2 linked regions of the Homo sapiens genome follow. The protein of the gene in region 2 purifies or fractionates together with the protein of the main gene of each other region. This does not show direct contact. Each region holds a gene or a part of one and is shown on either strand. Other genes may lie near its edges. The genes, in order: BOLA3 and FAHD2A.

Region 1 (11,433 bases), about 21 Mb from region 2:
CCTATAAGACCAGTGGTGAGAGAGCCAGTGCACAGCTCATTTTAAAGGAGGTGCTCTGAGATTCTGTGACACAGGACCCTGCTCTGAGCTATCAGGAAGGACTGAGGGGTAGAGGGGTGGGACCTTCAGCACCAGCACCCATGAACGGCCCTAGTGTCCTCCAACCTGTCATCCACGTCTAGTCAGGGACCAGTGCCCGGTGCTTCCATCATTGTAATGCCTCTTACTTGGGCATCTCTCCTGACTCGCTCCAGAAGGCACTGTTTCCTGCAGGTTACTTTGGTCCCATGAGCCTGGGTTCTATCACCTGGAGTCCCATCTCCTGTCCCATACAGTCCACAATCTTTAGCCTGGCATTCAAGGCCTGCCACACTCCATTCCCAGTCTGCCTTTTCAGCATGCACTCAGCCCAGCCAAGTGACTGCCGACCTGCTTTTCTGCTCCTTCACTACTAACTGTTGAGACGTGTTCCATCAGAAACATGGGCTCCCCTGGCCGGGCGTGGTGGCTCATGCCTGTAATCCTAGAATTTTGGGAGGTTGAGGTGGGTGGATCACCTGAGGTCAGGGGTTTGAGACCAGCCTGGCCAACATGGTGAAACCTCATCTCTACTAAAAATACAAAAATTTGCCGAGCGTGGTGGTGGGTGCCTGGAATCCCAGCTACTCAGGAGGCTGGGGCAGGAGAATCGCTTGAACCCGGGAGGTGGAAGTTGCAGTGAGCTGAGATTGTGCCACTGCACTCCAGCCTGGGTAACAGAGCAAAACTCTGTCTCAAAAAAAAAAAAAAAGGAAACACAAACACAGGTTCCCCCATGGTAGCCATTGGGGAAGGGGTGTTGTTGCCAATGGTAAACAACCTACAGATACTCCTTCTTCAGGTTCTTTCATAGAATTCTGACTTTGCTCCCAGTGAGAAGGAGTGCATGATGAAGGATAGCTGGCTAATTGAGCAGTGGGCTGTGAGGTCACATCCCACTGGGGAGGGCGAGACATGTTAATCAGGCCTAAAGGCGAGGGAGTGTGGAATTTGGCCCCACCATCCAGGGCAGTGGATGGCCTAGTGGTATGGATCTGAGGCAGGCTATCCAGCTTTTCTGGCTCTGTATCTTACCGAATTCAACCTTGGGCACATTACTGTGTGCCTCAGTTTCCTTACCTATAAAACTATCGGCATAATAGTGTCACAACATTATATGGAAGCAAACATCTCTTGAATTAGGTTTGGGGCCTCTTGTCTCTGGAGTCAAATTGAGTTATTAACAATCATCCTGTCCCCGCCAATAAAAGTTTATTCTGTGTTTTGGGGCACTTACATGGACTCCTGATACCACAGAGCCCCTCTGACATAACCCATGGCTGTGCTGGCGAGGGCTCAGGGGCCTGCCTTGCAGGGGGAATGGCAGGCGGGCCTGCACAGTGGCCCAGCTCAGGGGCAACAGCATCTTCCTCTGCCCTGACCTTCCTCTCTGTTCTGTGGCAGCTTCCACTTCACCATCGGATGTTTGCCACTCAGACTGAGGGGGAGCTCAGAGTGACCCAAATTCTCAAAGAAAAGTTTCCACGAGCTACAGCTATAAAAGTCACTGACATTTCAGGTAAGGTTTCTCTCACTCTTCCTACGGCGCTTGGATAAGATTTTGCCCTTTGGAAGGACAGAGGGTCAGGGGCTTGGAGGAGGGGGCTTGCTGCTGGTGAGTGGCTTCTCAAGATGTGTTGCTGCTGGACAGGTGGAGCTCGGCTGCCCCCACCTCATGGGATGGCAGTCAGGATTCAGAAATATCAGAGGGAAACTGAGGACAAGGCGCAGCTGGGAGGACTCAAGGTTGCCAGCCTGGCTCAGCTCAGACAAGGTCCCTCTCAGTCACCCTAGAGCTGAGGTCCACAGTCTGTCATTTGACTTTGAATAGGTTTTGCTCTAATTTTCCCCCATTCTTCTGACACCCTAGGATATCAGAGCTGGAGTGGACCCCAGAAAGATTTTCTTCAGCTGCTTTACTTTCCCTAAGAGGAAATGAGCCCAGAGAGGCCAAAGGAATTGCCTAGCTCCTCATAGGGAAGAGACAGTGGAACTGGAACCAGAACCGGGACTCAGGGGAGACTCTGTCCTAAGCCCAGTTACCAGCCCCAGCCAAGCGCTGTCCTTCTCAGGTGGCCACTGGCACCTAGAAGTTCAGGCTGGCAGTGTGTTAGGAGCAGGCTGGAGAAGCAACTTCTGCATCCACAGGATGGGGAAGATAGGCCCTTTATCCACACACACACACACACGTACACACAGAACGGCCCGTGGCGTGGGCCGCTGGATAGGCATCAGTCTGAATCTCTCCATACCCAGAGGCAGCCTTTGCCACTCAGCATTGCCATGAGGGCTCACTGACTTTACTGAGAACATAACATTTCCAAGGATTGAGGAGAAAGTTTAGAAAGTAGATTTTATTCTGGAAACCACAGGAAATAAATCAATCTAAAGATCTGCTGGGGTTTTGGAGCAGTGGCTCATGCCTGTAATCCCAGCACTTTGAGAGGCTGAGGCAGGTGGATCACGAGGTCAGGAGTTCAAGACCAGCCTGGCCAACATGGTGAAACCCCCCCGTCTCTACTAAAAATACAAAAATTAACTGGGCGTGGTGGCACACGCCTGTAGTCCCAGCTACTCAAGAGTCTGAGGCAGGAGACTTGCTTGAACCCGGGAGGCGGAGGCTGCAGTGAGCCAAGATCATGCCACTGCACTCCAGCCTGGGTGACAGAGCGAGACTGTGTCTCAAAAAAAAAAAAAAAAAATCTGCTGGGGCCAGGCGCGGTGGCTCATGTCTGTAATCCCAGCACTTTGGGAGGCTGAGGCAGGTGGATCACCTGAGGTCAGGAGTTCGAGACCAGCCTGGCCAACATGGTGAAACCCCATCTCAACCAGAAATACAAAAAAAAAAAAAAAATTAGCCAGGCATGGTAGCAGGCACCTGTAATCCCAGCTACTCAGGAGGCTGAGGCAGGAGAATCGCTTGAACCTGGGAGGCAGAGGTTGCAGTGAGCTGAGATTGCACCACTGCACTCCAGCCTGGGCGACAAGAGCGAAACTCTGTCTCAAAAAGAAAAAAAAAATCTGCTGGAATGGTACATCAGGTGAGGGCTCTGCAGGAGTCTTGGGGCAATGCTGAGGCCTTGATGTTACCAGGTCCTGAACTTGCCCCAGGCCCAGGGCAGAGTTAGAGCTTGACTCAGCTGTGGCTCTGCGCAGTCCTGGACAGAGTGCAGAAGGGGAGTTGAGGCTGAGAACCTGGGTTTAACCAAAACTTGGACTCCTAGAGCACATTATAAGAAAAACAGAACAGGCCAGGCGCGGTGGCTCACGCCTGTAATCCCAGCACTTTGGGAGGCCGAGGCGGGTGGATCACGAGGTCAGGAGATCGAGACCATCCTGGCTAACACGGTGAAACCCCGTCTCTACTAAAAATACAAAAAAAAAATTAGCTGGGCATGATGGTGTGTGCCTATAGTCCCAGCTACTCAGGAGGCTGAGGCAGGAGAATGGTGTGAACCTGGGAGGCGGAGCTTGCAGTGAGCCCAGATCGTGCCACTGCACTCCAGCCTGGGCGACAGAGCGAGACTCCATCTCAAAAAAAAAAAGAAGCAGAGCAAAGCCTGTTGAGTACGTTGCACCTCTCACACAATGGCCTGGCTCTGTAAATCATGCAGGGGACATATTCTTGCCCATGTTATTTCATGCTAGAGCTGTGTGTTTATCATCAGTCATCAGCACCAGCTCTCCAGCCAGGTGGAGGAAAGCTCAGGCAGGGGGTGGATGGCCCACCAAGCTCTGCCTCGAGGGCTTCACCAAAAAGTTCTCCCCCCAAAAGCCAGGATGAAATCCTGGATGCTGTGCTGTGGACCCAGCAGTGCCAGAGACAGCCCCGAGCAGCTCCATGCATAGCATGTTTGCTGTGTCCCTGGCTCTCATGCTCCCCTGGTTCTTTCCTTTCTTTGGACAGTATTACACAGTTTTCAAACCAAATTGTAGTGTATTTTTGCACTTCAAAAACACTGATTGTTGGTCCTTTGGAAGCTGGAACGCTGAAATTCCGTCCTTCTCATCCTCTTCCGTGGCGTTTATTGGCCTAGTGAAAGGAAACACTCTACACTCCCTAGGTTGTCCATGCTTTGTGCCTTATCTTTCCTGCCCACAAGTGGTAACCCTGGGTGGTGCAGCTGCCTCGCAAAAGGAAGAGCACATTTTGGATTGTGGCAGCCTGTCAGGAGGAGCATGTGGTCAGATTGGAAGCCATGATCTTTTCCTAATGGTCTTAGCAACTTTCCTTTGTGCTGAATGATAATATTCAGACCTTTGGATTGTACAGTACTTCAAGGATATATGGGACCATGGCTGCCATGACTTAATAATTGAAATGCTTTTGAATCATGTTTATTTTAGGAGGTTGTGGGGCGATGTATGAAATTAAAATTGAATCAGAAGAATTTAAGGAGAAGAGAACTGTCCAGCAGCACCAGATGGTTAATCAGGTCAGTAGAGGCAACAGTGCCCCTTGCCACTGGCCTTCAGCCTCCAAAGGGGCCTGCCAAGCAGGGATGGTGGTTTTTGCCGTCAGTTGCAGGAGAGAATAATGCAGTACTGCAATCACGAAACAGGACTCAAGACCTGAGAAAAATCGAATCTGGGAGTATCTGCATTGTGGCAAATAGGAATTTTATTCAAAATTGAAGACAGGCCTCCCAATAGTGATTTTGTATGTCCTCGTATAATGCTACCTATGTTTACTGTTATTGTCACATATTGATGAGTATATCTAAACACAGACACTGCTAAAAGATACATGTTTTTGTAGATCTGAAGAGGGGTTTTTTGGCCTCTCTTTGGGACTGCTTTACAGATGAGTCAGTTGATGCATGGCATGAGTGAGAATGGCTGCAGCTGCCCCAGACCCAATGACAGAACATTTGGGTTCTGGAACATCACGTTCAACCAGCCTAAGGCTCAGTTTAAATATTATCCATATTTATTTTAATTTGGAATTTATACCAACTTTGACCCTTGTACCTGTACCTATGAATTTGCCCCCTCACTGGGTGTGTTTGGCATCGTTCTGGAAGGTCTTGCCATTGTGAACTAGTGTTATTTTTGTAAAGCACAGCACTGGTAATGAGCGTCTCTTCGGTGGCCTCTCATGCATTGAGTTCAGGTGTCCTAGACTGCTGTTCACGCATTTCCCCCCACCCTTCTCTGCGTGCACCCTCCCAGCCGGCCTCTGCCCGCTGGTCTCTCTCTTTCTCTATCTGGGCCTTTGCCCAGATTGGACCTTCTGCCTGGGTTGCCCTTCCTCCCGTCCTCCACTCAGCTCAAATGCTGCCTCCCCTCCCTCCCCAGCAGGGAATGAATGCCGTTCCCCCACCCTCCCCGGCCCCCTTTTTTGGCTGTCGGTGTTTTCCGTCTTGTGTCCTGAAAACGGACATCTCTGCTGTCTGACCCTGCAACCTGTCAGCCCTTTGTGGACCAGTGCCCTTTGGGATCCATCTTTGTGTTTCTCATGGAACGTAGCCCTTTGCAGTGGATGTGACCCCTACAGCCCTAAGGCATGCTGGTGGTCTGCTGGGTGCTCCATCACTGAGCCCTCCCGGAAACTCTTGCAGTCCCATGTGATCTCTGGGGTCAGAATCAAGGCAGAAGACAAGACAGGGAAGACCTGGCTGGCCAGATGATCCCCAACCCGTGGCACTTTGGGTTTTATTCTCAGATCTGTACAAGCCACCTGGTGTGACTGGACCCATAGGTGCTGGTAATTTGAGTGTGTCCCTTGGCCTGAAACCACAGTTACAAGTGGTTAAGGAAGCAGTTTCTGGAATTGGACTTCCCACTTTCAAATCTGGGCTTTGCTACTTTCTAGCCATGTGACCTTGAGCAAGTTTTTCAACCTCACCCTTTGCCTCAGTTTCCTAATTGAGAGTAACAGTACTTGCTTCAAAGTGTTGCTGTGAGGATTCGTGATAAAGTACACGTTGACCACTGACAACACTGCCCGACACATAGTAAGCCTTCCATAAATGTGACCGCCATCACCATCATTGTCATCTCCAACACTGGAAGGAACCTGCACCAGTCTGGGGTGGGGAAGGGCTGTGATTCCCACAGTTTGGGGGAGTGTCACCTCACGGTCTTGGGATTAAGGTGTCTTCTGGCCCCCTATAGCAACATGTGCCTCTCCTCACACTTCCTGAGTAGACAGCCCAGTCACTTGTCTTTCATTCCCCCTCGAAAGCAGGCTTACTGCAGGACGGGGCTGTGTCCCCCACACCTAACAAAGGACCTGGCACATGGAAGGAGCCCAGTCAGTATTTCTTGAGAGTTTGCAGAGAGTGAGGAGAGTTGGCTTGTGTTTTCTTATTGGCTTACCCATGGAAATTATGTTTTAGTATCTGAAAGGCATTCTGTTTTGGAGAACTCACATCCTGACATTGGGGCACTTTTTAAAAATATATACTTCTTTTTTTTCCCTCCCACAGAGTATCACTCTGTCACCCAGGCTGGAGTGCAGTGGCGCTATCTCGGCTCACTGCAACCTCTGCCTCCTGGGTTCAAGCAATTCTTCTGCCTCAGCCTCCCAAGTAGCTGGGACTACAGGCGCCCGCCACCACACCTGGCTAATTTTAGTATTTTTAGTAGAGATGGGGTTTCACCATGTTGGCCAGGCTGGTCTCGAACTCCTGACTTCAGGTGATCCACCTGCCTCGGCCTCCCAAAGTGCTGGGATTACAGGCATGAGCCACCATGCCCAACCTTAAAAATATACATTTTTATATTTATATAGAGATGGGGTTCCACTATGCTGCCCAGGCTGGTCTTGAACTCCTTGACGATCCTCCTGCCTCGGCCTCCCTAAGTGTTGGGATTACAGGCGTGAGCCACTGTGCCCAGAGCAGCTGCATCCTGAGTTATTCTAGAGGCCTCTCCTCTGCCCCCAGCCAGAACAGCCCTTCTGGCTCAGGACTTGGGGGGGTCATGCAGCTCCACACTGGATGTCTGCAGGCAGCTGACATGAGGGGGTCCCCTGAGCCTGGCCACAGTACATTCTTAGGGGGCTGACACTTGTGTTAAAATATATGGACTTGGTCATAGGCAATTTTAGATGATTTAAGTCTGGAGATGTTGGCTTTGACAGTCGCATGAGAAGAATGAAAATGAAAATCTTCAGGAACAAGTCTGTTGGCCGGCAGGGTCTGAGCCGGGACCTGGAGCTGCCCTGCTCAGGACAGCTGTTGGGAATGGGGTTCTGACAGGCACTGCCCTAGGAGGAGGCAGAGACCTGGAATCAAGGGGAAGGCAAGGTGGTAACTGGACTCCACTCCCAGGGCCAGCTGGTCTCTTCAGGAGTGAGGTGGGGGTGGGGTAGGTGCCCCATCCAGATGCTCTCATGCCCAGGCTGTTTGGGTGGGGGCCTGGTGTCCTGACGGGGTGAAGCTTGCCTCATCTATTTTGCCTACTCACCCTATGCGTAGTAGTGTTCATCCTGGTGCTGTAGAGTCAGAATTTTCTGCCCAAAAGGCCTGAAAAGGTCGCCCAACCCATCCGATACTGGCATCCCTCCTGAGCTTCCCATCAGACTGTCCCTGCGGGATTCCCTGGAGGGGGCGCCCCCTGTCGGCACCCTCAGGAATGGACTCGTTCCTCTGGGACCCTGCTGCGCGGGGCTCAGCCTCTCCCAGGGCCCAGTGCGTCAGCCTTCTCTTGGGAAATACTTACTGGGCATTTGCTGTGGGCCACGCCCTAGGAGGCCTAGATGTTGAGGGTTTTGTACCAGGAGCACCTCCCTACCTGTCCTCCTGCCATCCTGGGGAGGTGTCAGCAAGGGTAGAGTAGGTAGGTAGCCACGGTGATCACTGAGTTGCCTTTTGAGGTGGACAGAGGTGAGATTTGAGCCTCATATTGGCAAATATTGCATGAGGCATTGACCACAGGTGCCCAGCGTCGTGCCTGCCACGTGGAAGGCAGTTGCTAAACAGCTGTTGCCGTCTCCCTGCCTCCGGCCTCTTTCCAGCTTAGGGGATTGCCCTCCCCTAAGGCGCCTCCACCAATGTCTTTCCCCTGCTCAGAGCCTTTACGTGGCTCCCCTGGTTGCCCAGAATCCAGTCCAGTCTTCCTAGCCTGGGATTGCCCATTCTTCATGTGATCTGCCTCAGTCTCCCTGACATGTGCCTACCTCAGTGAATCACGGGAGCTTCCCAGCCTCTCCTCACTTTGCTGTCCTGGGGCAGATGCCCTCTCACTCTTGCCTGCTCCACCTCTGGCTCCAGCTCCAGGGCTGCCTCCTGTGTGTGGCCCTTGTGCGTCCACCCCAGTCACCAGTGCAGTAGCTCACCTCGAACACCGGAAGCAGGGCTGTGCTGGCTTGAGTCTGGCAGTCCTCTGCTGCCCACATTCAGCCCATTTGTGTTGGACTTAATGCTACTTTCTCTTTCATTACTTTCCCACGCCTTTTCCTCTGTGTCCCCAGCACCTACTATAGTGCTGTGGGCATAGCAGGTGCTTAAGAATGGTTATCCAAGCTGCATCTTATTACCCATGGGACTTCGGCCAAGTCACTTCCCCCAGCAGGGCCCCAGTTTCCTTAACTGTAGAGTGACTCAGGTGATCTCTAAGACCCTGTGTGGCTGTAAGGGACTGTAGTGTGTTTTGGGAAGCCCTCAGGGGCTGCACAGAGAGCAGGGAGAAGGCATCAGGGAGGGGGAGTGCGCAGGGCCTGAGTGGGTGAAGCCCAGAAGGTTCCTCTGTCCAGGGTCAGTCACATGAAGGTGTGACTGGGCCCTCACCCAGCCAAGGTGGATGTAAGGAGGAGAGGCTGGTTGTGGTCCAGGCACAGACACAGTCTCTAGGGAGCATTCCACGCCTGCAGAGAGCAAGTGGCCCAGGGACCTTCGCCCAGTGATTATATGAGGCTTTTTCCAGGGACATTTCTGCCTGTCCGCAGAGTTGAGGGCCCTGCACTTGATTGTGGAGCTGGAGGGTGTGCAGTGTAGGCCAAGTGGGGCAGCTCATTGTCCCCCAACACAACAGGAGCTCCCGGATCAGGGCAAGTCAGGAACATGATGGAAACCAGGTATGGCCAGGACCTCAGGATACCTGGGTTCATATCCTGATTCCATTACTCGCTTGTTTGCTGACTTTGGACAAGGAGTAGACTCTATTTTTTTTTTTTAATTAAATAAGGGGATGGGACTAGATTGTGTCTAAGGATCTATAAACCTGACCACATATATTAGGATTCTTTATATTGTAAGAGACAGAGACCAAATTAAAATTAGCATAAGCAAACAAAGGGAATTAATTGGCCCATGTAACAAAATTATCTGGTTTCTGGCATATCTAGATTCCTCTCTCTCTCTGAGCTTTCAGCTTCTTTCCCTGTGTTGGTCTCCTTTTCTCCTGCTAAAGATGGGCTTTCTCTCCTTGGTGGGAAACACAGTCCATGGCCACCTCCAATTAATTTCATAGCATGTTGGCCCAAGAAACAAGGCTCCACTCTCAGAAATCCCAAGGGAGATTCTAAGTGGCCCAATTTGGGTCATGTGCCACCTCGGTCCAATCATAGGCTGGGCCAGTGGCACATAATGACCTCAATATCAGACCAATTGGTGGTTCCACCAGAATTATACAATAGAGTGGAAAAGGAATTATTCCCCAAGAGAAGGAGATCACTAAAGAGACTAGAAAAGAAAAATGTCCACTCTAGTATGATTATCAGATTTTGGCCTAGTATAAAAGGACCTTATTTCTTCCTCTGTACTGATTATAAACTTGAGCGGTCCAAGCCCCACTCTGATTCTGTAACCTCACTTTCTCCCAGCACTACAGGGGCCAAATATCTATTTGACTCTGGTAGTTCCTTCAGATTTGGGCTCTGACACCATTTGTAGCCTTAAAACAAGTCCCATAATTCCTTTGAAACTTTATTTCCTGCTCTGACCATTGGGGAATTTGTGCTAATTGGTATGATTTTAAAGAACTGCTCATTTTAAAGAATGCTTGATGCTCGAAATAACAAAACACAGGAAACAGCCTAAAAGTTCGCTAGGGGACAGGTTGAAAAGTTATAATGCATTCATATAATGGAATACTATGCTGATGCAAAAAAGAATCAGGACACCCATATATGCCTAACATAGAAAGATCTCCAAGATAGATGTTTGGGGGAAGAGCAAAGTGTAGAGCAGGGGTGTCCAGTCCTTTGGCTTCCTTGGGCCACAATGGAAGAAGAATTCTCTTGGGCCACACATAAAATATACTAACACTAATGATAGCTGATGAGCTTTAAAAAAAATTTCAAAAAAAATCTCAAAATGTTTTATGAAAGTTTACGAATTTATATTAGGCCACATTCAAAGCTGTCATGGGCCGTGGGTTGGACAAGCTTGGTGTAATGTGTTTGAAATTTTAACCATTTGCGTTTTAAAAGGTCATGGGGTGAAATATATTAGCTTGAATATGCCTGGTGAATATGCATTTTTAAGTCCCTGTAAAGATACACAAGAAACTGGCCAGGTGCAGTGGCTCACGCTTGTAATTCCGGCACTTTGGGAAGCCAAGACAGGCAGATTGCTCCAGTCCAGGAGTTCAAGACCAGCCTAGGCAATATAGTGAGACCCTGCCTCTACAAAAAATAAAAAAATTAGCCAGGCATGGTGGCATGTGCCTGTAGTCCCAGCTACTAGGGAGGCTGAAGCAGGAAGATTGTTTGAGCCCAGGAGGTGGAGTTTGCAGTAAGCCGATATCGCGCCACTGCACTCCAACTTCGGCGCTAGAGCGAGACCATGACTTAAAAAAAAAAAAAAAAAAAGATACACAAGAAACTAACAACAGTTCTTTTGGGAACAAGGGTGGAAACTGGGGAGATGGACAGGTATAGGAGGGAGACTTCCCTGAATGCCTTTTTGTACCTTTGAATCTTTAAATCATGTTAGATATTATTGATTTAAAAAAAATTGTTTTTCAAAAAAAGGAAAAATTGCTTAAACAAAGCACATACAAAGTCTCCTTCAGATGCAGAGCTGTATAAAAATACTCTCAGAGAATTACTGTAATCAACGTCAAATACACAAAAACTGATGATGCTGTTTTCTTACTTAGGCACTAAAAGAAGAAATCAAAGAGATGCATGGATTGCGGATATTTACCTCTGTCCCCAAACGCTGACCACGCCCTGGCTGCATAGATGCTGCTGCTTAAGACCTTGGATGAACTTCACTGACATCATTCTTCCCTAAGCAGTCACCAAAAAATTTATATATTTTGCTCATATACATTTCCATATTATAATTATAGAAGATGTATAATCTATTTAGATGTTAATTAAAGGAAACAAACAACTGAAGCTTTTGAAGGGTCATTAGTAATGTTTCAGGTTCCTTTATTTTGGCCAAAGGGGTCTTGTCT
Region 2 (17,423 bases):
TGTGTAAGAGGCTGCGCTCTGCCCTCTGGGGCACTGCCCCCATCCTGGCGCTGTATCCTGACTGTGTGTGGTCAGTGCTGTTCTATTTCCACAGTGGCTGGGTGAGTCACACTGGCTTTCATCTCCTGTAGTGTGGAAAATGCCTTGGCCTTGGGATAACTATGCTCCATGATGCTCAACTTAGATTGTTTCAGAGGTGGCAGCCGCAGGAAGCCCGATCCACCCATCAGCTCAGTGTTCTTTGTAATTTACTTCACGCATGCAGTTTCACATCCTCTGCAGTTGTGTTCCCTCTAGGGGGCTTGGGAAGGAAGCCCATGGGAGAACTCGTGGCTGAGGATAAGAGACTTGCCCTGTATGGAGTCAGCAGTGAAAGGGCGGCCAGGGAGGGCAGGTGCCACATGTACCTGAACCCATGCTCCTCCCTGAAGCGCTGTTCATCTGTGCAATGGTAGGTATAAGGGGGCAGGGACCAGGGACCTACCTGCTACACTGTCCTTGGTCACCAAGGCAGGGCCCAGAGGGCAGAAGGTGTCGAAGGTTTTTCCCAGCAGCCATTGTTTCCCATTACGTCTCATTTGCCAGTCACGAGCACTCACGTCATGAGCCACAGTGAAGCCGGCCACGTGGGCCATAGCATCTGTGGCCTATGGGGGCAGGGGATTTGGCCATACAGGAGGTTAGATCATGGGTGACACCAACACCTATGGCAAGGGATCTCTAAGCTGTTATCCCATGTTAGTAGCCAGAGCCAGCCAAAGGTGGGTGAAGGGAAAGGCAGTGTCAGGGAGCAAGGAGGCTGACTGCTTCCTAGTGTCAGGGACAGCTGGCACCGTGTGTTGGTGAGTGGGGTCAGAACTAGGAGAGGCAGGAGCTGGGGCCTCTGCTGCACTCTGGACTGGGAGCCCACCCTTTCCACCTCACCTTGATGTGCTTGCCTTTCTTTCCAATGACCACGGCCAGCTCCACTTCCCAATCTACCTCCTGTAGGGTGGGAGAGGAACAGTGAGCTGCAGTGGCTTCAGGGCCCACTGTCCATGCTGAGAGGCTGCACACCATGCTGAAGGGCCTCAACCTTTGTCAGTATGGCTTCGCTGCCATCCCATGTTTGCCATCACCACGAACCAGAGCCCAGTGAATGACAAGGGAGGTGTGACTTGTAGACCCATACATTTTGGGCAGTGGCAGACAGCATCATGGGATGCAGGCACAGGTCCCCACACCACTGACTGCAGAAGAGCAACACGTGTCCAGGGCACTGAGTTTAAAAGTCACTCTGGATACTTTTAACAAAGGATAAATACGAAGTAATATCCCCTAGCAATATGTAACCCTACTGTGTGTCAGGCACTGTTCTAAGTGTTTTAATCTATTAACTCCCACAAAGGACTTGAGTAAGCAATTCACAAAAAGGTAACGGACATGGCCACAAAACATGAAGAAATGCTCAGCCTCTCCCATAATCCATAAAATACACTATAAAATAGATATAATTTGGCCTTTAAAATTGGTGGCTCTTTCTAATAATAACCAGAGTTGGTGTAAGTACACCCGACATCCAGATGTTGGTCTCTAATACCACTCCCCACTAAGGAGCACTGGGTTCCTTGGGGAAACGGCCAATTCCAGTTCCAAGACAGACAGTACATGATAAGCCTAGAACATCTTGGCCAGAAAGCTAGGATATACTAAAAGTGACGGGAATGGAGCCAACTTGAAGGCCCCTCACTGGCCAAACTGAGGTCACCTAAAGAATGTAAATGATGAATTACAAACAATTGAGTAAAAACAGAATTCACAGTGATATTGAAGACAGGAATAAAAAGGAGGGAGGCAGCTTTTCTTCATAGAAGAATGCCAGCCAATAAAAACAGAAGGCATGATTGAGAAGTCATTGATCTTGTCTGGGAGTGGTGGGTCACGTCTGTAATCCCAGCACTGTGGGAGGCCAAGTCAGGTGGATCACCTCAGGTGAGGAGTTCAAGACCAGCCTAGCCAACATGATGAAACCCCGTCTCTACTAAACATACAAAAATTAGCCAGGTGTGGTGGTACACGCCTATAATCCCAGCTACTCAGGAGGCTGAGGCAGGAGAATCACTTGAACCCAGGAGGCAGAGGTGTGCTGAAATTATGCCACTGCACTCCATCTGCACAATAGAGTGAGACTCTGTCTCAAAAAAAAAAAAGGTCATTGTTCTCTAACCCCCAGTGCAATAATAGATTCAGTCAGGATGACCACAGGATCCCTGGATGAGATGCTATGGGGCAATAAGATAGTTATGTGATCTCAAACTACCACCCATGGATTGCTTATTACAAAAATAGAAATGCATCTTCACAATGGAGGGACCTAGTGAATGTCAGCTAAACCAAGTGGTCAAATTCTGGGACCACTGACATGAGCCTCCCAGTGGGATACGATGGAAAATGTATAACATCTGCTTTGTAGATCTCTTGATAAAAATGCTTACCCTGACACTAATCATGAAGAAACAACCAGACAAACCCAGAATGTGAAACATGCTATGAGACAACTGGATTCTTCAAGGAAAGGGCAGGGGGTATTGTTTGAGAGCAGGAGTTGGCAAACTATGGCCAGCTCAACATCTGCTATAATCAACTTTGATTGGAAACCCATCATTCATTTCTGTATCGTGGTTTTCACACTATAACAGCAGAGTTGAATTGTTGCAAAACAGAACATATGACACGCAAAGCCTAATATTTACTAATTGGCCCTTGATATGGTTTAGCTCTGTGTCCCCACCCAAATCTCAACTTGTAGCTCCCATAATTCTAACGTGCTATGGGACGGACCCGGTGGGAGATGACTGAATCATGGGGGCAGGTCTTTCCCGTGCTGTTCTCATGATAGTGAATGGGTCTCATGAGATCTGATAGTTTTAAAAATGGGAGTTTCTCTGCACAAGCTCTTTTCTGCCTGCTGCTATCCACCTAAGATGTGACTTGCTCCTCCTTGCCTTCTGCCATGATTGTGAGGCTTCCCTAGCCACGTGGAACTGTAAGTCCAATTAAACCTCTTTTTTTTGTAAATTGCTCAGTCTCGGATATGTCTTTATCAGCAGCATGAAAACAGACTAATACAGCCCTTTAAGAAAAAGTCTATGGAACCCTGTCCTAGATTGAAACCACTAAAGAGATATAACTGAATACAGTGTGTGGCCTTGGTTGATCATGGAGCAACAAACGAAGTAACCAAATTAGAAGTTATCTTTGGGGAAGTCAGCAGTACTTCCGATTGGGAATTGGGGCAATTGGATTTCATATTAAATATTATTCAAGTTAATTTTTTTGGTTGTGATAATGGTGGGATGGTCATGCAAGCCATTGTCCTTATTCTTAGAAGATGCCTATTTACGTTTTTATGACTAAATTGTCTTAATATTTCCAATGTGTTTTAAAAGGTCCCCTCCACCCCATACCCTGCAAAAAAAAAAAAAAAAAAAAAAAATGTGTGTTTGCCATGTGGAGGGCAGGGAGAAGACAAGGGAGAAAAAGGATATATGGCCAAATGTTTACAATGAAACCAGGTGGAAAAGTTATCTGAGTGTTCACTGTATTATTTTCCCAGCTTTTCTATAATTTTCAAGACATTTCTAAAATAAAAATCTGAGAGAAAAAGTAACCAGTGTTAGAAAGGGTATATACACTACTGGTGGATGTGTAAGTTGCTTTTACAATTTTTTAAAAGGCCAATTGGCAGAATTTTTCAAAAATTTTGAAATACTGCCTATACGCTGACATATTTAAATTCCAAAGGGTTTATTCAAAGGAAATAATAATGTATTAATGGACATGCAAAGCCTTTTCCACATAAGGATGTTTACTGCAACATTTATTTATAGAAGCCAAAAACTAGAAACAGTATCCAGCAGTAAGGTACTCAGGAATAAACTAATCTACATAACAAACTCCGTGGTGTCAGGGCGAATACTTAATGGCATGAAAAAATGCTCCTGATGGAGTCTTAAGTAAAAGGTAAGTATATGTACAGTATAAACATATACAGGAGCGGAGAAACACTGGGAAGGTAGACAGAAAAACATTAATATTCCGAGCCATGGGCAGTGGGATTATGGGTGACATAATTTTTTAATGTTTATCTCTATTTTATTATCTACAGTGAAGGTGCATTGCTTTTGTAACCAGGAAAACACGTACATTAACTTTTTTTTTCCAAGGCCAGTGTTACTACTGTGTGTACAATCCTGTAGAGTTTCTGCTGAATGCGCTATTGAGCGAGAGGTGGCTCCAGTAGGCTCAATACTGAGCTCAGAATGCCCTTGTGATGGGCCCAGTGACTAGGGAGGGCAGTGGGGAGACACTGACCTGGCTCTGTGGTGGGAGGACCACCTCATCATAGGGCCCCACGATGGAGCTGGCAAACTTGCTGAAGATGATGGGCTCCTTGGGCACGGGCACGTTCTGTTCTTTGCAGTGGTCCACATAATTCATGCCCACACACACCACCTTATCTGGTCGTGTGACTGGAGCCAGGAAGGTTACCTCCGACCGTGGTAGGACTGGCAACTGGGCAGCCAGGGCTCTGTAGAGACCAGAGCAGGTGAGAGGGTCTGGCTGGGAACAGGTGGGCAATCCCGGGCAGGCTGGGCAGATCCTGCAGCAGCTACAGGTTTTGCTTTTTGAAATCTATTTCCTAGCTCTATCAACCATCAGAGTCAGTGTGAAAATCACTGACTATTGTCCTTTGCTATCAGAGCAGGGCTTTTATTTATCCAGTGTTGATTTCCTCTCCCCCTTAGGTAACTCATGTCCATGTAAAAGATACAAACTGGAATACATGGAAAGGTTTCCCTTTCCCCTTCCGGTTACCCCGTTCCCCTGGCTCTTCGCAGCTACTCTATGGATATTCTTCTCCCACCCTTTTGTATGCAAATGATAGCATACTATTTACATCTTTTAAAAAAACAACTGATTTTGGAGATCTCTGCTTAACAATATGTAACAATACATAGAGAGTGTCCTCTTTATTTCTTGTGGCTGCATATTACTGCTCTATAGAGATATACCCAAGTCCCTAATGAGGGGCATGGAGATTTCCAGTCTTTGCAGAATATGGCAATATGGGAACATACTGTTAATACTGTGAGCTGTGAAACATTTGTATTTTTTTCCATTTTAATAGATGAAAATGACATCTTAAAGTATTTTTAATTTATTGTTCATCAGCTCCTTAGACCAGATTCTATAGGGGTCCAGGCTTCAGGGACACTCTCACCTAATCTAGTCCAAACCCAGGAACCAAGTGTCTTATAGAAAACCTCCTTGCAGTCCTCTCTCCTTGTAGGAGCTGGGAGTCTATATCACTCCCCCAGCTGCATAAGATGCCTTTTAGGACCCCCGGGCCCAGACCCGTCAGTCAGTCCAGGACTTCATTCCCAGAGGAGGCAGTGTGATGAAGTATAGAGTCCTGGTTCCAGCACCACATGTATGGCCTTCAAATTGTTAATCACCTCCCCTAGCTCTCAGTTTTCTCCTCTGAAAACTGAAGATGTTATTATGTAAGATTTCTAAGGATCTTTTAAGAGAACGGGAGAAAAGGAAAGGTGGGGTTACTCTGCTCCCTTGCAAAAGAGCTACCTGCTGGTGCTGTTTCCCAGAGCGGGGAGGGTGCAGGGGGACCAGGGCAGCTGCTTCAGGGCGATGCTGCCCACTTACTTACCTTCTTGCCACTGAGAGGGTGGCCTCTCCCTGCTCTAGGAACTGCGTCATCGTCTTCGGGAGTGTGGGGTCAAAGGCATTGAGGTTGATAACCCCTCCACCATTCCCTGTCTCCAGGCCCAAGTGAGGCCCCACCAGGTGGGGTGCCCGGAACTGCACTAGTCTCATGTCTCTGGAGGGTTGAAAGGGCCACTTCTGAGCCTGCAGCAGAACTGTGAGTAACCTTCTTCTACCAGACACCAGCATCAGAGCCTGCAGAGAAAAATGCAGGATCCAGGAGACAGAGGATCCCAGAGCCATCATCAGGTTCCCTGAAATTCCTAGGGCTATAGCCCGAGGCCCTTTGCCCCATCAACCGTTCCCTGCATACCACACGGGAAGTGGTCCAGGCTTGTATTTTACCTGCTATACTTCATAAGGTGAAACTTTTCTAGAGGAGCAACTACTACATGCTACGCAGTAAGTCCCAGGGATTCCAGCGTTCCTTCAACCAGTGCTTTCTGAAAGTTCCCACTGTGCTTGGCTCTGCTGTAGGTATTGGGGAAACAATGTAGGTGAAACTCAGCCCTGCCATTCTCCCTGCACAGGTCACAGATGTTAACAACTGACGTAAGATTCAGCTATCAGGACTAATGCTGTGAAGATGGTCAGGGGCTCTACCCTTCTCTAGTTTCTGGAGGAAGTGATGTGAGCTGAGCTGGGCTAAATGAGCAGGACCAGGAATTAGCTGGGTGGCAGCCCAGCATGGGCAAGTGACGCTGGTGAAACTGGCTTCACAGTGGCCATAAACAATTTTTTAAATGCTATTTTGGTCCTGTTAACCTCCTACTTAAAATGGTTTCCACTGCTCACATGATCAAGCTAGAACCTCTACCAGGCTGTCCCAGTCTTCTAGGAGCAGCGCCCCCACCTGCCTCTCCAGATAATAATTATTTCGTTTCTCCTGATAGAGAACAAGTTGCCTGAGGGAAGAGGCTGCAGACAAACAACAGGGTCTGGGCCTGACAGCCATCACTTGTCATCTCCCTGGGTCCAGGGCACATGTCTGTCTCTTTCACTGCCCAGCACTGTGCCTGGTGCACAGAAGGCTCTCAGTGACTTTCTGCTGAATGAACAAATAAGTGACAGAAGCAGGGGCTTGACATTTCACTACTTGGGAAAGCTTAGTGCTTGTTAACTTCAGGAGACATGGCTGTGCCTTCCCACAAGGGCCAGTTGTAGTGGCTCATGCGTGATATCCCTAACAATTTGGGAGGCCGAGGTGGGTGGATCACTTGAGGTCAGGAGTTCAAGACCAGCCTGGCCAACGTGGTGAAACCCCGTTTCCACTAAAAATACAAAAAACTCGCCGAGTGTGGTGGCAGCCACCTGTAATCCCAGCTACTAGGGAGGCTGAGACACGAGAATCGCTTGAACCCAGGGGAAGGAGGTTGCAGTGAGCTGAGATCGCGCCACTGCACTCCAGCCTGGGTGACAGACGAAGACTCCATCTCAATTAAAAAAAAAAAAATCCTCAGGGCTCAGATCCTGTTTTGAGTCCAAGGCTCCACTTAAAGACAAACACTATTCTCTTGTTTTGTTCTTAATCCACGTCTGGCCTCTATTCCTTACCACATGGTGCCTTCCCTGAATGGTTCCTTGCTCTTACAACAAAGGCGGTATTGTACAGCCTTCTATGCCCAAAAATGTGGAGGCAGCTGATCCCCAGACTCTTGGTCCTCACCTGGAGATTCAATCTGCCTTGTTCAGTTGAAGATTCATTAGACTTAGGTCACCACTGTTGTGGCCCACCAGTTTGACTAGAAAACCGAGGGCTTTGACTTCTCTGCCCTGCTGTCTTACACAAGCACCAACTGTGCCACTGTCAAAAGGCTGTTCGAGCCAATGTGCACACACTCAGACACTCCACATGCTAACATAACAGTAACTGCTGCCGCTGAATGCCAACTATTAAGTGCTCTACCTACAATGTCTGATTTAATTCTCGACAATTGTGGAAGGTAGGTACTGTTAGCCTCATTTTACAGATGAAACAATTAAGGCTTAAAGAGGTTAAGAGATTTGCCCAAGGTTACACAGTCCTAGAGCTAGGAGAGGAAGGAGCTGGGATGTGAATCCAAGTCCAGGTGACATGAAGTCCTTGGTTCAGAAGCTTGTAATGCAAGCAAAAAAATCCAGCTTCAGCCCCCATCCCCCTACCAAGGCCATTTTAACCCAGAATGTTGTGGTGAGAAGTGGGGACCTTCCATAGGAAATCCTCCAAAGTCTCTAAAGATTGTAGTGAGAAGTAGGGACCTCCCACAGGAGATCCTCCAGAGGCCGTAACTGCTAACAGACATGCGTGGGGAAACTACAGGCGCCCTCTGGCTGTTGCCTCAGGGACGAGGCTGGTTACCAGCTCTCCAAGAGAACCCCAGGCCCCACTGACTGTTCCCTTCCCACATGACACACACATGCAGGTTCATTCCAACCTTACAGCAATCTCCTCAGGTAGAGCGCCCTCACTTTAAAGAAGAGGACACTGAGACTCAAAGGGATGATGTCAGGTGCCCAAGGTACTAGTCAGAAAGTGGCCCTGGGGCTTCTGCAACAACCACTATATCACACAGCCCGAGCTCAATCCAACTCTGCAAGAGTCCATAAGCAAAGGGGCGGCGACATGAGGTGGAAACAGTAGCCTCCATCAAACAAAGCCTGAGACATGGGTGTGCACGTCGGATTCCATCCCACCGTCCACTCGCCTGGAACCCGTGCCGGTCCCCCAGTTTCCCCATATGCCCAGCTCCAGCCCCGACAGTTAGTGAGTGCTCACACAGGTCCGCCCCGTCTGTGTGGTCAGAAGCGGCTGGGGATCCGGTACTAGTTCTGCGCTCCGCGGGAGACCGGCGCCACGGACACCCTTCTGGCCTAGACCCAGCCAGGCTCGTCCTACCTGGCCGCGGCGGCCGATCTTCCTGCGCTGTAGGGTTAGAGCTCGCGGGGCCGAAGGTCAAGGGCGGCGGGCGCCTGAGCACTGCCACCAGTGACCGCAGCCAGCCGGGGAAATGCAGCAGCTGCTAACCCAGGGCCACTCGGCCGGATCACCCGAGAGAAAAGCGGGCGCGATCCTGTGACGTCACAGGCAATGGCCACTAGCAGGGCGCCAATCCCGGAGGGGCGGGCCCATCGTGGGGCGGGCGGCTCCGGCGGGTCTTCAGGCTACGGGTTCAGCCAGGCGCCAGCCGCGTTCTCTGGAGACGCTCTCTCTCGGAGGGACCCTGCACTTGCCTGAACTCGAGAGTGGGCGCTGCCCGAAGGTTTGTCCCTGGGCGCTTCGCTGGCCTCATCCGGTCTCGGCCTTGTTCTGGGCCTGGCGCCTTTCCCATTGTTGGGGAAAGTGGTCTAGGAGACCAAGGCAGCGTGCTGGGTGGCAGAGAATGATTTGTGGCTTCTGATTCTGACATATGTCGTTGAGGAGGGGAGGGATGACTGCCCCCGTTTTACTTATGGAGAACCTGGGGCCAGAGCTGTTTTCCCAGGGTGACACAGGCGGTGAGTAGTGGAGCTGGCATTCCTGACCCCAAAGCGCAGCGTTTCCCAGCCACTCTCCGCAGCCAGGCCTTCACCTGCACTGCTGGGCGCAGGTGGGGAAGTGGGGAAACGGGACTCCATCCCCTGCAGAGGGCAGGCGTGTAGGGAGTGGCAGCTGAACTCCACAGACAGCTACTGCTCAGCTCTTCAGCTGCCGACTTTGAACAGTGTGAGGGGCTCTGTACAAGTGGCCCCCACATTACTCAAGGACCAGATCATCAAGAGCTTTACTTGTCCCACGAAGGAGTCTGGACCTTGTTTACGTGCACAGGAGACCGCTGGAAGGTTCTCAGTGGCGTGCCATGTCCCGACTTCTATTTGAGAAGTTTTTCTCTGGCCACCCGTCTGAGGAAAGGTGTCTGGGTGGGTGGTGCGGTTGAGAACAATGGTGGTGCGGTGCGTGGTGGAGAAGGTGAGTGTCCAGAGATGTTCAGGAGGAAGAACTGACAGCTCTGAATGACAGGAGGTGGAAGTGAGAAGGAAGGAGGTACAAGGCCAACTCCTGGGTCTCTAGCTCGGTAGGTGCAGGGCCGTTCATGGAGACAGGGCTCCTGGAGGAGCAGCGGGTCTGGGGAGAGGATGGTGAGCTCCGATTTGCATGGGACATCCAAAGGGCATTGAACGGTGGGCAGTTGGAGACATGGGTCTGGAGCTTGGGACTTCAGCCTAGCTTGCAGAAGGTCACCACAGATATTGAAATGGAACCTATGGGGGTGGCTGTGATCAGGGGGATTCGCTGAGGAGAACCTGGCACAAGGGTTTCACTAAGCCATAGCTCCCAAAGACTTTCTGAAAAGCTAAGTTACAGCCTGGAAGAAAATATCTGTAAAGGCTATATTTGATAAAAAGACTTGTATCCAGAATATAGAAAGAATGCTTAAAAGTCAGTAGATAAAATCAAACAATTCAATTTTTTAGATGGACAAAATATTTGAACTGACATTTCATCAAATAAGATATACAGACAGAAAATTGGGACATGAAGGCTGGGCGCAGTGGCTCACGCCTGCAATCCCAGCATTTTGGGAGGCCGAGGCAGGCGGATCACAAGGTCAGGAGATCGAGACCATCCTGGCTAACACAGTTAAACCCCATCTCTACTAAAAATACAAAAAATTAGCCGAGCGTGGTGGTGGGCGCCTGTAGTCCTAGCTACTGGGGAGGCTGAGGCAGAAGAGTGGCGGGAACCCGGGAGGTGGAGCTTGCAGTGAGCCGAGATCGTGCCACTGCACTCCAGCCTGGGCGACAAAGCAAGACTCTGTCTCAAAAAAAAAAAGAAAGAAAAAATTAGGACATGAAAAGATGCTCAACATCATTAATCATTAAGGATATGCAAATTGCAAGCGCAATGTGACACCATCTCACACCTACTAGAATGGACAAAGAAGACTGATTATACCAAGTACTGGCAAGAATGTGGAGGACCTGGGATTCTTGTACACTGCTGATGGGATTATAAAATAGTACCACCACGATCGAAAACCATTTGTCAGTGTATGAAGAGAATTAAACATACACCTACCATATGATGTAGCCATTTCAATCCTGACTATTGACAGTATTGAATTTTACCTTAGCCCTTTGCTTCTAGAAATAGTGAAGGTTAAGGAATCCCACCACTCTTTTGTTCCAGAAAACCCCCTACTGGAAAGAACCAGTGACTTTCTATATAACCTGGATAAGACTCCCAGATGCTCCCTTGTTTATCTGTGACCAGGCCAGACACAGACCCTCTAAATTCCCATTCTTGGCCTCATAAATGATTAGCTGGGCTGCTTGTCCCACAGATCAATAAGAACAAAAGCCTGTAACCAAACCTTGGTTCAGATTCTCTCCTTTTCCAAGCCCTTGAGCTTTGGCCCACCCACAGCTTGTGCCAACCCGCAGCCCTCCTGAGGTTCCCTCCTGAGAACAGGCTGTCCGCAGGGTAAGACCTCCTCGATCGTGACACTCTTGCTCAGCCCACTTTCCCATAACAGTTCTTTCTAGCCACGTTTACGCCTCCCTATACAAGATCAGCCCTTTGCCTAACCTCTGAGACACTTGCAGATCATATGGGAAGCCTGCGAGTGGCCGCACTGCAACGTTTCCCTATTGCAATGGTCACCCCCACAACAATCCTTTGGAATAAATTCGCTCCTTATATAATCCAGATTTGTTTTTTTGTTTTATAGTAATTACCTGAGAAATTTAAAAAAAATGCTTATGCAATGGCTTATACAGAAATGTTCACAGCAGCCTTTTTACAAAATCCCCAAACTGGAAACAACTCAATTTTTCATTAACAGGTGAATGTGTAAACACTCTGTTATAGCCACACTAGGGAATACTACCCAGCAATGAAAAGGGACAAATTGTTGATGCAACATGGATATATATCAAGATAATTATTCAGAGTGAAAAAGAGATTAAAAATGAGTACATATGGAATTATTTCATTTGTATAGAGTATCCTTGGGGGGTACTTTCCAAGACCCCTAGAGGACGCCTGAAACTGCAGATAGTACCAAACCCTACATCTGCTACGTCTTTTCCTATATATACATGCCAGTGATCAAATTTAATCCAGATGAAGTTAACCTGGTGCTACACGGTTGCTGTTCAATCAGAATATGTTTCTGTTCACGTCTTCCACCCACAAATCTAATGCCTTTTCCATCCTAACTAAGTGCTTCTCACACACTGTAGCCATAACTTTTGCAGTTTGAGGTGCGACAGCAAAACTGGCACAAATTTCTTTTTCCTTCTTCACAATTTCATGGATAGAAGATTCGTTCTTTCTGTAGCTCTTAGCAACCTCATTATGTGATTTTTGTTTTATTTCCTTAAGTCAGGAGCGTTCCCATAAAGGAAGGCTTCTCTTTGGCATATCGGAAATGCCGACACCACTCCCCTTTTGCTCTGGGGCCATTATGAAGTCAGATGATGGTGCCTTGCACAGAAGCACTGCGGTACCACGACAGTGGATCTAATCACGGAGCCAGCTCATTGGTGACTAAGGGGCAAGGAGGGCAGACGTCATGGAAAAGCTGAACAGAGGAATGATTCTTGTCCCAGGTAGGATGGAGCAGGACAGTGCAGGATTTCATCACAGTACACAGAGCAGCACACAATTTAAAACTTATGAATTGCTTATTGCTGCAATTTTCCAGTTAATATTTTTGGGCCATGGATGACCTTGAGTAACTGAAATTTCAGAAAGCAAAACCATGGATAAGAAGGGACTACAGGCCAGGCGTGGTGGCTCACACCTGAATTCCCAGCACTTTGGGAGGCCAAGGCGGGTGGATCACGAGGTCAAGAGATCGAGACCATCCTGGCTAACACGGTGAAACCCTGTCTCTACTAAATATACAAAAAGTTAGCCAAGCGTGGTGGCGGGCACCTGTGGTCCCCGCTACTTGGGAGGCTGAGGCAGGAGAATGGCGTGAACCCAGGAGGTGGAGCTTGCAGTGAGCCGAGATTGCGCCACTGCACTCCACCCTGGGCAACAGAGCGAGACTCCATCTCAAAAAAAAAAAAAAAAAAAAGAAGGGGCTACAGTACACTAGAAATGCAAATGAATGTGTAGTGACAGGAAACAGGCCAGTGGTTGTTTGGGTGTAGACACCTCCTTGGAGAAACTGCTTGTACCTAGGACAAGAGATGGTGGAGAGCTGGACAAATCCAGGGTTGTAAAACAGAGATCATAAGACTGATGGAATGGAGTCTTTGTGGCTTATAAATTATGAAATTATAAATAAGACTAAGGCCATGCCAGGCAAAAGTCACATACCCCTACACTAAAATAATAAATGTTCTAACTTACCAATTGTCAGATGCTAACTGATGCCCCCAGACTCCAGACTCCATTCCACAAAGCATAACTACAGGTTTGATTGAACAAGAGACTGACTTCAGTAATTTTCTCCTGATAAGACACCACTGACCATGGGCTGGTTCTGGCCAGTTTATAGAGGCTGCGCACTGAGTACCTTTGTGTTCTTTTTTTTTTAAGGCAGACCTGGCTCTGTTGCCCAGGCTGGAGTACAGTGGCATGATGCTGACTCACTGCAACCTCTGCCTCCTGGGCTCAAGCCATCCTCCCACCTTGGCCTCCCAAGTAGCTGGGACCACAGGCACACACCACTGCACCTGGCTAATGTTCTTCTACCTTTTGACCTATAGAGCCTAATTTTAGGCATTTAATGTTATGTTTCCACCCCAAAGTGAACATGGGTTGTATGCAACACACAGGATTATTCAGTTGCATGTGTTAGGATCCCCTCATAAATATTCATAAGGGTCTCATAACTTACTGAATATGTATGTATAGTTCCTGTCTTTGGGCATACACCTCAGCCTCTCCGCTTTTTCCTCTGAAGTGCCTGCTTTTGGTTTCTGCTAAAGGCCACGTTTCCCCACCTGTGGGATGTCCATCCTGCAGGTGGCAACCCTTTCTAAGAGATAAAGCTCTCCTGGCTAAATTTCTACATTTTGTGACTTTTTCCATTGACAATGTGGCTGAATAATCAAAGGGGAAATAAAAGCTTTTGAACCCTGCTTTCTCTATGGCCACCCTTATGATGTGGGTTGGTTTTGCCATGAATTCTTTGTCACTGCCTCAATGCACGCCCAGCCCCACAGGCGGCTTGCTCCTCTCTCTGCCTCACCCTCGCTCTGGTTGGTAACTCGCATGTTTAACAGAGAAAACAGAAGCCCTCACTTGGGGTGAATGCCCTCCATTTCCTACTCCCATGCCCTCAGACCCTCCACACCGGCACCTGCCATGTGCTAGCCCCGCTGATGAGGAACGACCCCTTTCCAGGCCTCAAGTCCTGTGCAGGAGCCCCTGCACCTTGGTTGCCTTACACTGAGAATTACCCCGTATTCCTCTTGAGCAGGGCTCTGCCTCTTCTGCACGTCCTTCCCCCATGCTCAGATCTCTCTATCTTAAACAAAACCAAGCAAAACTCTTCTTTGGCCCCACTTCCCTCCAGCTGCCCCTCCCACATCGCTCACCAACCTTCCTTGGAAAGTCTCCTACAGGAGCTTAATTCCCATATGAATCTTCGCTTTGATTTCCTTGTCTCCCATTCATTCCTCATTCATCCTGATCTGACCTTTGCCCCCATCCTTCCACTGAAACAAGTCTTACTTAAGTCCCCAGTGATTTCCATGGTGCTAAGACCAAAAGACACTTTTGTTGTTGTTGTTGTTGTTGAGATGGAGTCTCGCTCTGTCACCCAGGCTGGAGTGCAGTGGCGCGATCTCAGCTCACTGCAACCTCCGCCTCTGGGTTCAAGCGATTCTCCTGCCTCAGCCTCCTAAGTAGCTGGGACTACAGGGGCACCCACCACCATGCCCGGCTCAAAAGACACTTTTTATCATTACCTCTAAGCACTCTTGGCCTCTCTGGGCCATTTCCCTGTGCTTTAAATACTGCCTTCCCATGGCTTCCCAGCAGAGGTGACTGGTTGCCCTCCAGTATTCTTTCTTTCCCTCTTCCTCAGCAGTAAAACACCATTTATTTGCTAGATATGTGGCTGCATAGAATAGAGAGATTCATTTCTCAGTCATGCTTTGAGGCTACATGAGACCATGAGAGTTAGTCTGGTTAGCAAGATCTAAATAGAAAAGTTTGGGAGTTAAAGGAATTATTTAAAAAGAATCCGCAGTCCCTTACTCTTCACCCTTCTTTCTTTCTGCTGGCTGAAATGTGAATGTGATGGCTGGAGCATGAAGGGCCATCTCTGGCCTTGAGGTGACAGGTTACCGGAGCTAGGAGCTGGATCCCTGAGGATTGTTGAGCTGCCAAACCAATGCCAAACAATGCTCTGTTGGCCTTTTATGCAAGAGAGAAAAAACAAATCTATGGTTTTAAAAGCTACTATTATTCTGGATCCCTGTTACTTGCAGCCAAACATAGTCTCTATTGATAGGTCTTCCATCATATCACATTGTCTTGAATTTTCCTCCTCTATCTCAGTCATTTTTCAGACTCACTCTCCTCCATCCAACCTATAAATGTTGCTGCCTCTCAAAGCACGGTACTTATGTCTCTTCTCACTCAGTAGGATCCCTCAGGCCACATTTTCACAACATCAACTACAGGCTTGATGGTTTAGTTGCCACGTACAGAAAGAAGACTCACATGTGTCCATCTCCATAAACTCAGCTGTTTATTGGACACTTTCATTTTGATGTCTCAAAGGCACCACAAGCTCAACATGAACTCATGATTTTTCCACATCAAATGTGGTCCTCTTCTGTATCTCAGAGGATGTCATGGCATCCTCTGACCATCCACCTGGGCAGACCCCAAGCCAGAATTCAGTCTTTGCCGTTTCCCCACGTCATTCCCATTTGCATCTTCACATCCTGGCAACTTTACCTCCCCACATCATCTGAACCAATAGACTTCCCACCATCCAGGCCAAGACGCTATTTGACCCTGCTGGCTGCACTCCCACTATGGCCTCTGTGGTGATTTAAAAACATGTCCTCAAATTATTTGACATGTCTTCCATGTCCATTGCCTTTATTGCGGGCGGAACCTAGCAATTCACTTCTGACAAGTAGAGTATGGGGGAAGGACCCTGCATTCCTTCCACAGCTAGCCTGTCAGCCTGCTTGGCTGCTGCAAAAAGTACCATAGCCTGGGGGGCTTAAACAGCAGCAATTTGTCACCTCAGTTCTGGAGGCCAGGAGTCTGAGATCATAGTGTCGGTGGGCTGGGTTCTTCTGAGGCCTTTCTCCTTGGCTTACAGGTGGCTGTCTCCTGGCTGCCTCTGCACATGGTTGTCCCTCTGTGCACACATGGCACTTGTGTCTCTTTATGTGTCCTAATTTCCTCTCCTTATAAGGATGCCAATCAGGTTGGATTAGTGCCCACCCTAGAGCCCTCATTTTAATTGCATTACCTCTTTAAAGGCGCTATCACCAAATCCAGTCACATTCTGAGGTACTGGGGTTAGGACTTCAACATGTGGATGAGGAGAGGGCACAATCCAGTTCATCACAACTAGGTTCTAATCAGTGACCCAGCTGCCTCCTGGCTCTCAGGACAGTGCATCAGTCTAGGTCTGATCAGGAGAGAGAAATCACACAGGGATTGGAACAGACTGAGTTTAATACAGGGAAGTAGCAACTATGACAGGGGATTGGAGCCATGAGGGATAGGCTGGTAACAAGTAAAGAGAACTCTAAGGACTAAGGAAGAACTAGATATAAGGAGCAGCCAAGTTGGGCGTGGTGTTTTATGCCTGTAATACCAGCCCTTTGCAGGCCAAGGCAGGAAGATCTCGTGGGCCCAGGAGTTTGAGACCAGCCTGGGCGACATAGTGAGACCCTGTCTCTACAATAAAAAATAAAAAAATTAGCCAGCCATGGTGGTGTGCATCTGTGGTTGCAGCTACTCAGAAGGCTGAGCTGGGAGGATTACTTGAGGCAGGGAGATTGAGGCTGCAGTGAGCCATGATCACGCCACTGTACTCCAGCCTGGGGTACAGAGGGAGACCCTGTCTCAAAAAAAAAAAAAAAAAAAGCAGCCAAACTCCTAAGATACAAGGAAGCACCCAAGGAAGAAGCTCCCACCCCACAGACCATGAGAGCCAGATCTCGCTGGAGACGGCAGACAGGATGCTGTAGTTTTACACTGGTGAAACTCGCTGGAATCTTGCATCTATTGTAGCAACCATATTTCCCTTGGAACCAAATTTTCCCCTTGGTCATCAGGACCCATCGCTGCAGCCACTGGATCGACCCATCGCTGCAGCCACTGGATCAACCCTCTTGTTTTGCCTGTTGATTCAGTGGCATAAGGAACCCAACATGACCAGGAAGCAGTCTTAACTTCTCTGTCTCCTGGGGGAAGCACTGTCCCTTTGAGTACTAATATCTCCAAGCCAGCAGAGCTCAAAGTGGCCAGGACAAGAAACAAAACTGCTGTAAGTGAGGTTATTAGATGTACTCGTGAGAGAAGCACTCCCGCTTCTTATAGTCCATAGACGATGCTGGGCAGGGAAGTTGAAACCCTCTAGAATATGTGTCCTATCGGGGAAAACCTCTGCCTCTTCCATGATGGAGGAGGTCCAGTGTAATCAACCTGACACCAGGTGGCTGGCCAGTTTCCATGGGGAATGGTGCCATAGCAGGGACTTGACATT

The links.
Region 1: the proteins of FAHD2A (region 2) and BOLA3 purify together in Homo sapiens (affinity purification with mass spectrometry; 3 studies listed by BioGRID and IntAct, with this or other methods). This does not show direct contact.

What each region holds. Positions count from the first base shown.
Region 1 is NC_000002.12:74,135,353-74,146,785, reverse strand, and holds the end of BOLA3 (bolA-like protein 3), read left to right. Parts: intron 1-1,482; coding exon 1,483-1,597; intron 1,598-4,425; coding exon 4,426-4,514; intron 4,515-11,127; coding exon 11,128-11,193; coding exon of another isoform or gene 11,194-11,264; 3' UTR 11,265-11,386; downstream 11,387-11,433. UniProt on the Homo sapiens protein: Acts as a mitochondrial iron-sulfur (Fe-S) cluster assembly factor that facilitates (Fe-S) cluster insertion into a subset of mitochondrial proteins. Probably acts together with NFU1.
Region 2 is NC_000002.12:95,394,088-95,411,510, reverse strand, and holds the start of FAHD2A (oxaloacetate tautomerase FAHD2A, mitochondrial), read right to left. Parts: upstream 8,804-17,423; 5' UTR 8,639-8,803; exon of another isoform or gene 8,519-8,638; intron 8,512-8,518; exon of another isoform or gene 6,109-8,511; intron 5,959-6,108; 5' UTR 5,953-5,958; coding exon 5,708-5,952; intron 4,571-5,707; coding exon 4,354-4,570; intron 985-4,353; coding exon 925-984; intron 648-924; coding exon 485-647; intron 1-484. UniProt on the Homo sapiens protein: Tautomerase that converts enol-oxaloacetate, a strong inhibitor of succinate dehydrogenase, to the physiological keto form of oxaloacetate. It is thereby required to maximize aerobic respiration efficiency by preventing succinate dehydrogenase inhibition.